2 separate regions of the Homo sapiens genome follow, and region 1 is linked to region 2. The links come from fine-mapping of genetic effects on gene expression. Tissue or cell type: amygdala. Region 2 holds a variant in brackets; the other region holds the start of a gene. All regions are shown on one strand. Distances are from middle to middle.

The links. PIP is the estimated chance that this variant, and not a neighbour inherited with it, causes the effect.
Region 1: it holds the start of ZNF19, and the variant in region 2 is fine-mapped to the expression of ZNF19 in amygdala (GTEx, PIP 0.95).

The regions. Positions count from the first base shown.
Region 1 is chr16:71,486,251-71,491,402 of GRCh38, reverse strand. ZNF19 (zinc finger protein 19) reads left to right here and starts at 2,079. Exons shown (of 6, transcript NM_006961.4): 1 at 2,079-2,131.
Region 2 is chr16:71,516,927-71,522,078 of GRCh38, reverse strand. It overlaps LOC105371335 (a long non-coding RNA gene), which reads right to left. Exons shown (of 2, transcript NR_135172.1): 2 at 4,233-4,474. Among named protein-coding and RNA genes, the nearest start is that of CHST4, 6.9 kb to the left of the region's middle. The variant A/G (reference allele first, on the strand shown) is at 2,530.

The sequences.
Region 1 (5,152 bases), 31 kb after region 2:
TCACAGTTAATAAATGGAGGCTTGGAAACATTAGTTTGGCTTAACATATTTCAACTTCTTCACTATGAGACACAGAACTACGTATCTGAGGCAGTGATAGAGTGCTTATGTGTGTATACTGAGGCCAAACTATCATGGTTTGAATTCTGGCTCTGCCACATAAGAGCTGTGCATGACTTTGAGCACGTTATTTAATCTTTCTGTGTTCAGTTTCCTCATCTGTAAAATGGGACTCGTGTCATCTTATATGGTTCTTTGGCCCTTATTTCAGAATTTGATGATTTTTCCTCTTACAGTTACTGTTGCTCTTCTCTCTCTCTCTTCCTGAAGGGACTGAGGTCAGAAAGCTTGTGTCCACGGTGTGAGAGCATAGAAAGGCGTATTGGGACTTGGAATACCACTTAGTATATTGTTCTGGAAAGCCAGTTTGACATGGTGGAAATAATCTAGGGTTTAAATCTTAACTCTGATACCTATTATATGCTGTGGCCTTACTGAAACTCTTTGAGTCTTGGTTTTCTCTTACTCATGATTCATTCTGCGTTGAGTGCTTGTATTATCTGTCCCACTCTCCCTTATAGTAAGGGAGTATAATCATATATGTCCAACTCTTTATTCATCAAAAAATGATTATTGATCATGAACTGTGTTATAAACACTATTCTAGAAACTCAGGATACAGTCATGGACAAGATAGAAAAGCCTCTTTCTTGAGGAGTTTACACTCTGCAGAAAGCCTGAGGGTTGCTCTTGAAGACCTGGATCATGGTCCCATTTGTCTGGACTTGTGTTGCTGAAGTCCCAACTGAACAGCAAGTCCAACTAGTCATCCTGGAAGTCCTCAGCTCATGATGAGCTAGCTATTTTAGCACTCTGATCTTCTAAGAACCAACCCTGAACTGCCACCAGGCTTTGCTTATACTATCTAGTCTGGTAGTAAAAAGTGTACAGATGCCCAAACCCACTGAGGTTTATAACCATTTTCAAAGGTTTTAATAAAAAGATTGAATACTGGATTAACTCCAGAGCCTATTCAGGCTCAATTCCTAAGCTATTAATAATCGCTAATATCTAGTGAGTGTAATAATTACTAATATCTAGTGAGTGTTTAGTATGTGCTAGACATTGTACTGATTTACATGTACTAACATCTAATCCTCACAACAATCCGGGGAATAAATACTATTATTATCCTAGTTTTAGAAATAAATGTGACACTTACAGGTTAAGTAATGCACCAAAGGTCACAGAGTGGTCCTTTGGCCTTTGAAACAAAGCATCCTGATGCCAGGCTGTGCTCCTTACCACTATGTCATACTGTTGTAAAGGAGATGGGACTAAGAAGCTCTAAGTCCCCAGTTTGTTTTGTAATTCTGTGACAGTGATCACAAACGTTTTGACAGTCCAGCAAAATCCTGGCCAGAGTTCTCTTTTGTGGACCCAGAAAGCCACAGGCACTAACACTTTAGAGCTATCTCTCTTAGCCCATATGCCCTGCGCTTTTGGCATTTTCTTTATCATTTAGAGGGGAAGGAGGGCAAGGGTCTGAGGAGCCTTGAATGGTGACTTGGACTCCAGGGGTAGTGGCAAACCATTGGAGGTTACAGTGCATGGAATTAAAGACAGCTTGAATGGTATAATCTGACTGGCTCATTTTACAGAAGACAAAAGCTGCTCAGAGACACAAGGGTCTTCCTCAATGGCCCGTGAGTGGCAGAGCTTGTGAAAGGAAGTTGATTCACTGCGAGTGAACCAGAACTCAGAAAGACCAGTAAGCAACCAGGAAACACCGGCCACCATCTAGGCCTGTGGTGATGGCGGTTTTATCACGAATTCCTTCCTGACAATCAACTGCTCCCGGGCAGAAGCGATCGCTTTCTTGACCCACCCAAATGGACAATGACCCAGGCGTGAGGTTCCTGAGGAGAGAAAAAAGTGTGTACAAGGAAAGGAAGAGGATGTCTCCCAATCGGAAACACCGAGATGCGGAAAAGTTGCACCGTAGAAAGAGCAGCCGTGCTCATGACGCACTTCTGGCCTCCAAGCGCCCCACAAGCGTGACGCACTTCCGGCCTCCTAACCGTTCTCGCTAGCGGTGCGCTTCTGGCCTGTTTTGAGTCCGCGCTCAAAGGTGCCAAAGTGCAAGGACCCACAGTTGGGCGGAGCTTGGGTTGGGAGTGAGACAGCATAGCAGTCCAGGCTGGTCCTTTGAGCGCAGCTCAAAGAAGGGGACGGGGAGGGCGTCACTATACAATTGTGGCCGGGTGGGACCTGGGCTGTTTGCTCTTGGAGGCTGTACAGCTGCAAGCTTTGCCGCTCACGAACTGGAGCTGGAGAAAGAGCCCCCCAAGGATGGGAGGATGACAGAAGTGTCTGCAGATGGCACTGCCTGGGCACCAGGAGAGGCAAGGACTCCAGCTGATTCCTACCTCCTAGGGAAGCCATCCCCACTCTTAGTTGGGGCCGGCTTAAGTCTTTAACCAAGGCTCTTGCAGTTGCAGTGTCTGTTTCTTTTGAAGAGGCAGATTTGGAGACCTGTGTCCAAACAAATGCCATTGTCCCATAGTGTTTTTATGTTTTTGTTAGTTTGTTTTGGTTTTTTTGAGACGAAGTCTCGCTCTTGTCACCCAGGCTGGAGTGCAATGGCACCATCTCTACTCACTGCAACCTCCGCCTCCCGAGTTCAAGTGATTCTCCTGCCTCAGCCTCCCGAGTAGCTGGGATTACAGGTGCCTGCCACCACACCCGGCTAATTTTTGTATTTTTAGTAGAGACGGGGTTTCACCATGTTGGTCAGACGGGTCTCAAACTCCTGACCTCAGGCGATCCGCCTGTCTCGGCCTCCCAAAGTGCTGGGATTACAGGCGTGAGCCACTGTGACCAGTCTGAACTCACTTTTAATTTTAGGAGCTTGTTTTGTAGATTCTTTGGGACTTCTTATACAGATAATCATGTTGCCTGCAGATAGTAACAGTTTTGTTCTGAGTTTCGAATCTGTGTGTCTTTCATTTCATTTCTTTTTCTTTTTCTTTTTTTTTTTTTTTTGAGATAGTCTCGTTCTGTCACCCAGGCTGGAGTGCAGTGGCATATTCTCAGCTTACTGCATCCTCCACCTCCCGGGTTCAAGCAATTCTCATGTCTCAGCCTCCTGAGTAGCTGGGATTACAGGCACACACCACCACACCTGGCTCATTTTTATATTTTTAGTAGAGATGCGATTTCTCCATGTTGGCCAGGCTGGTCTTGAACTCCTGGCCTCAAGCAATCCATCCACCTTGGCCTCCCAAAGTGCTGGGATTACAGGTGTGAGCCACTGTGTCTGACCTATGTGCCTTTTATTTCTTTTTCTGGCCTTGCTCTTGCTAAGACTCCCAATATGATGTTAAATAGTAGTGGTAAGAGCAGACATACCTGCCATGTTCCCAATCTTGGAGGGAAAGACATTCTGTCTTTCATCATTAAGTATGTTTGCAGCTGCAAGGAGAGAATAATATTGAATTATATGTCAGTATAGATACTGCAGCACAATATTTAGCTTAACTACATATTTTTTTGCAGCCAAGGCAAAAATGACTTTGTGCATGAAACTTAAGTTCCACCACAGCCTCAGCCTATTTGTGGCTGGGATTTTCAGACATATGGGAGAGAAGTTAGTATTTTCAAGTCAGGATTAAGTAACAGTAAATATGCCATGATCATACACCATACTCTGGGTATCATGATCTGATATTACTTATAGCTTCAGTTAAAGATACTGTAGGAGTTAGAGGGAGAGCTGGATAGTTAGGCTGTGAGGTGACCAGAAAGAAAGGTGGTTCCCATTGGAATCTAAGGAATGGTCAAAGCTTGAAAGTAATTATGTTTGATGGTAGAGATTGTGACAGACATGAGTATGAGTATTGTATTAGTCCGTTGTCACAGTGCTATACAGATATACCTGAGACTGGGTAATTTATGGAGAAAAGAGGTTTAATTGGCTAACAGTTCCACAGGCTGTACAGGAGGCATGGCTGGGGAGGCCTCAGGATACTTACAATCATGGTGGAAAGCAAAGGGGAAGCAGGCACAATCTTCACATGGCCAGCAGGAGAGAGACAGCAAAGGAGGAAGCGCAACACACTTCGAAACAACCAGATCACATGAGAACTCACTATCACGAGAACAGCAAGGGGGAAATCCGCCCCCATGATCCAATCACCTTCCACCATGTTCCTCCCCCAACACTGAAGATCATAATTCAACATGAGATTTGCCTGGGGACACAGAGCCAAAACATATCAAGTATACATTTCCTTAGAGGTGATACATTGGCTGGGAAGACAGGTCAGTGTGAATTAGCTATTATTATTAATGATCTTGAAAACTCTCTGGGAGACTTTCCAGACAAATGAGAGTGGAAATTTTCTTCCTTTCCACTCCCTGCAAAACAAAAATAAGTTATTCCCAACTCTTTTTGTTTTTAATTTTAGTGTTCCCATCTTCTGGCCAAGAATATACTCAACTCTTCACCAAGTAAACATACGGGTTCCCATGTTTCTAAAAACCGATAAAATTAACAATAGAGACTTGTTTTTGTTTTATATCCAGACTTAATGGTCATTTATGTAATGTAAATATCCAGAATAGGCAAATCTATAAAGAAAGTGGTTGTCTAGAATTGGGGGAAGAAGAGAGGTATGTACATGTGTGTCTATTAATTTTCTATTGCTGCTGTAACAAATTGCCATGAGTAGTGGCGTAAAACAACACTAATTTATCTTAGAGTTTTGGAGGTCAGAAATCCAAAATGGGTCCCACTGGTATAAATTCAGGATTTAGACTAAGGAGAGAATCTGTTTCCTTGCCTTTTTCATCTTCTGGAGGCCACCCACTTTCCTTGACCCTTGGCCCCTTCCTCCATCTTCAAAGCCAGTGAGGTTGGGCCAAGTCCTTCTTGTGCTGTCATTTTTGTGATTCTCTTTCAATTCCCTCTTTCACGTTCAAGAACTCTTATGATTACACTGGGCCCACCTGAATAATCCAAGATAATCATCTTTTTTTTTTTGACAGGGTCTCGCTTTGTTGCCCAGGCTGGAGTGCAGTGGCTCAATCAAGGCTCACTGCAGCCTTGACCTCCCAGGCTCAAGTGATCCTCCCAACTCAGCTAGTAGCT
Region 2 (5,152 bases):
TCATCTCTAAGGATATTGAGTTCATGTAGAATTGTCCCAGGAGTAGAGTTGGAGAGTGGCAGGGGTCATATGACTGTAATGAGGGCCATATAGTCTGGTTAATATCAGAGTGAAAGCTGGAAATGTTTAGGAAGGAGGGAGCCAGAATAATCTGGAAGCAGCAATGAGGAACAAGAAAACTTATTCCATTGTGGAGTGTAAGAAACAGCCACCACTTGAGAGGACTGCAGAGAAAGCAGTGTCTTCAAGGGAGACCTAGTTTCCTTTAGAGCAAGAAAGTGAAGAGGAAATTAAGACACTTCGAGAAAAGATGGATTTTGTGGATCCCAACAAGGGTGTCGGGATGGGGAGGGTGGGAAATGGGGTCAGAAAATGAGACATTTGGAGCCATTTGGGATGAAACACAAGGGATAAGGAACAACTGAGGATCCTGGGCTACTTGTGTGACTGGCATAAACCAGGATAAAGGAAATAATAACAGATAATGATGGCCTCCAGGAAGATAGTGGTGGCCAAACTGAAAACTTGGGGAAGGGCAGTGTGAAGTACCTGCTGGAAGAGGCTGGGGTGCTCTCTCTTTACTCTTGGCAATGGTGACGTGGAGGCCAGGGTAGGGGTGTTGTTGAAACTCTAGACATTGAGAAACTGCATCACCACTTCTCCAAACAATGCAAAGCATCTGGAGTCAGCTTGGTTGAAGGAACAAGATTTTTGGGCTGGGCATGGTGGCTTATGCCTGTAATCCCGGCACTTTGGGAGGCCAAGGCGGGCGGATCACCTGAGGTCGGGAGTTCGAGACCAGCCTGACCAACATGGAGAAACTCCATCTCTACTAAAAATACAAAATTAGCTGGGTGTGGTGGCTCATGCCTGTAATCCCAGCCACTCGGGAGGCTGGGGCAGGAGAATCGCTTGAACCTGGGAGGCGGAGGCTGTGGTGAGCTGAGGTCATGCCATTGCACTCCAGCCTGGGCAACAAGAGTGAAATTCCATCTCAGAGAGTGAGAGAGAGAGAGAGAGAGAGAGAGAGAGAGAGAGAGAGAGAGAGAGAGAGAGAGAGAGAGAAAGAGTCTTGACTGAGGGAGAAAGAAGAGATAGATCACGGAGCACTGAGGGACTAGGTAGTTCTCCAGGGGATATCACAGGAGTTCCTGGGTGCTGACCTGTGTGACATGAAGTCATGTAGTCATACAGTTGGGGTGGATACAGTGGCTCAAGAATGCCATTGGGTGACTTATTTCTACAGACCATCAACTTCATGCTTATTGCCTCATGGCCAGGAGACAGCTGTGCACATCTAGGGCTCACATCTACATTCCAGACAGGAAACTGCAGAAAGGTTAATAGCTGCAGGGCATATGCATCACATAAAGTAAAGACGTGGAAGCACTTCAGTCTCCAAAGCTCTTGGTTCATGTGGGTTGCTCTGCTTAAAGCGCCCTCTCTGCTTTATTGCCTGGTTAACTTGCGTCTTCTCTTTCAAGATTCAACTCAAGTCAGCATCACCTTCTCTGGGAAACCATTCCTTATGTCCCTAGGCTGAGTTAGGTGCCCTGGTCTGTGTGTTCAGAGCTCATGGCAGATTGCCATGATGACCTCCATTCTCCCATCTTTGTATCCATGCCCTATGACATATAACTCTGCCTGGGGTCTCAGCTATGCTACTCGCTTTGATTGTAGGGATTTTTTTTTTTTTTGAGATGGAGTCTCGCTTCTTTACCCAGGCTGGAGTGTAATGGCACAATCTTGGCTCACTGCAACCTCCGCTTCCAGGGTTCAAGCAATTCTCCCGCCTCAGCCTCCCCAGTAGCTGGGATTATAGGCATGTGCCAGCATGCCCGGCTAATTTTTGTATTTTTAGTAGAGACAGGGTTTCACTATGTTGGCCAGGCTGGTCTTGAACTCCTGACCTCAAGTGATCTGCCTGCCTAGGCCTCCCAAAATGCTGAGATTACAGGCATGAGCTACCGTGCCTGGCCTGTTGGGATGTTTTTAAGCAGAGGCTTTAAAGTAACTTGTGCAGTTGGACATGTTCTTGCTCTTGTGTCTTAGTCACTGCCGTGAGATCATGCCTGCTGGATGAAAGGCACGGGAAGCACATCCAAATTACCATGGTTGTCCTAGCTGAGGCCATCCTAGATCAGCCAATGGCAGCTAACCACCAGACACTTCAGTGAACCCAAGCCAAATCAGCAGAACTACCTAAGCAACCACCCTAGATGCACAAGAAATGAGGTTTTATTGTATACCACTGAAGTTTCATGGCTGGTTGTTACTCAGCATTATAGTAGCCTTAGAAAATTGTTGCAGAGTCCCTTCAGCATAGCCACAAGCCTTAGCCATGTCTGTCTTCCCAACTCACGTTGGGAGAGAATCACCTTTTATCTGTGTATATTACCTCTTGCCTGTGTATACCTAGCACGTAGCACAATGCTTGGCCCATAGAAGGCGCTTGGTGAAAGTCTGGGAAAGGAAGGAATGAATGAGCCTTTGTTCAACCTTAAAAAGGAACTTTTTTTTTTTTTTTGA[A/G]ACAGAGTCTCTCTCTGTCACCCAGGCTGGAGTGCAATGGCATGATCTCAGGTCACTGCAACCTCTGCCTCCTGGGTTCAAGCAATTCTCATGCCTCAGCGTCCCTAGTAGCTAGGATTACAGGCGTGTATCACCCTGCCCAGCTTTTTTTTTTTTTTTTTTTTTTTTTTTTGAGATGGAGTCTTGCTCTGTCGCCCAGGCTGGAGTGCAGTGGCGTGATCTTGGCTCACTGCAATCTCCGCTTCCCGGGTTCAAGCGATTCTCCTGTCTCAGCCTCCTGAGTAGCTGGGACTACAGGTGCCTGCCACCACGCCCGGCTAATTTTTCTATTTTTAGTAGAGATGGGGTTTCACCATATTGGTCAGGCTGGTCTTGAACTCCTGACCTCAGGTGATCCACCCACTTTGGCCTTCCAAACTGCTGGGATTACAGGCGTAAGCCACCGTGCCTGGCCTAATTTTTGTACTTTTAATAGAGACAAGGTTTTGCCATGATGCCCAGGCTCATCTCAAACTCCTGACCTCAAGTGATCTGCCCACCTTGGCCTCTCAAAGTGGTGGGACTACAGGCGTGAGCCACTGCGCCCAGCTGAAAACAACAACAACAACAACAACAAAAAACAGGTGCACATTCCCTATAACTAAACAATGTAATCAAATACACGCACCCACAGAAAACCTGGTCCAACAAACATATGTGAAGCGACAATATAAAACCAAGTCTCATCACTGTTTAAAGCACTTTTCTACCTCAAGTACAATGATTGTCTCTCAAACATGGGGCACTTAATTTTACATTTTATTGTATTGTATAGTTCAATCCAAAGATAATCTAAATCCCACAAGTACATTTTAAAAGGTCGAAGGTAAAGAAGTAGATATGACTCAGTGTCGATATTTTTTCTATTATTTTCAGTACGCAATACTAAATCACTCTAACCACTGACGTTTCCTAAACAATGTCAAGAAACTTGCATTGCTTAAAAAATTATTTGTATTAACATTAAAAACAGAATTTCCACTAGGAGACCACAGAGGACACATGTATCTAGTAGCCTAGTTAAGTATGTGGCTGGGGTGGCGAGAATATCATCTTTATGAAAGGTCAGTGTTCACATGGGATTGTGTGTTTGAGGCACACTAAGAAAATTAATTTTGTCAAAGAAGAGGGTTTCTGTAGAGCAATAGTGAAAAAGGGTGTGGATAGGGGGCAGAATAGAGCTTAATTGTGGAAATCTGAGTGTAAGGTTAGGGCATTTTTATATTCTACTTAGCAGAGAATAGTTACAACTTTATTTTTTATTTTTAAGACAGGCTCATTCTGTTATATAGGCTGGAGTGCAGTGGTGCAATCACAGTTCACTACCACCTTGACCGCCCGAGCTCAAGCGATCCTTCCACCTCAGCCTCCCAAATAGCTGGGACTATGTGTTTTTATTTTGTGTAGAGAAAAGGTCTCACTTTGTTGCCCAGGCTAGTTTTGAACTCCTGGGCTCAAGTGATCATCCTGTCTTGGCCTCCTAAAGTGTTGGGATTACAGGTGTGAGCCACCACATCTGGTTGCTTTCAACCTTTGAGCAAGGGAATGACATAATGAAGTGTTGGGTCAATCTAGCTGCTAGATTCTAGCAGTATGGTGAAGTGGTTTTTGCAGAAACATGTTTAATAGTCATATCAAATAATTTAATGCCAAAACACTATTATGCAGATATACCCATTTATTTAAAAATCACATATTTCTTAAAGTCTAGATTGATGCGAGGATGCAAATGAACAAGAAATCATTTTGAGATCATAAGGTTTGCTCTTCTCTTCCTAATAGTCATCTAGTTTGTTGCCCGTTGTGAATCCATGAATTACTCGTTTTTTTTTCTGAGTATTGGGTTGTCCTCATTTTCCTTTGTTTTGCCTTTGATACTCTCCCTTGGGTCCTGTTGGTCCAGTTCCTTGAAAAAATAATTACAGTAGGGGTAGAGGTCAGAAGTAAGAATGAATGAGACTCCATGAAGCCAAAACCAGAATCAACATTGGGATAAACTGTTTTAAGCTCCCTTTCCAAGAACACAGTTCACCCGAGTTATGATAGCATTTACCTTTTGGGTGTGAGGATATCATTTTGCCTTTGAAGTGTGTTTCATAATCCACTGATTGGACACATTGCTATATTGCTGTCACTATTTCTTTTTATTCAAGAGGAACTTAAGAGTTAGGAAGGATAAATAACTTTGTCCAAATTATTTTGTTATGTTAGTCACAGAAGCACGTCTTTTCACACTCCATGCCTCTCTAAGACCTGCTGTTTCTTCTAGAATATTCTCCTCCCCACCTTACTCCCATTCCACCTGCCAAAAATTCAGCCTTCTAAACCCTGTTCAGATATGCCTTTCCTGTGCAACCTTCCCTTCTCCCCGTGCCAGTTCTTTCTCCTCGCCCCCCAAAGTAAATTGTACAAACCTCTGTAATGATGCACATGCGTTTACATATATGCCTCCCTATAGGACTATAGGGGTCTTCCATTTTGTGCCCCCAGCACCAGCATCTAGTACACAGTAGGTGCTTAATTAACGTCGGATACAAGATTAGAGAATCTAAAGGCAAGGAGGGAAATTTTAAACCCTTCCAAA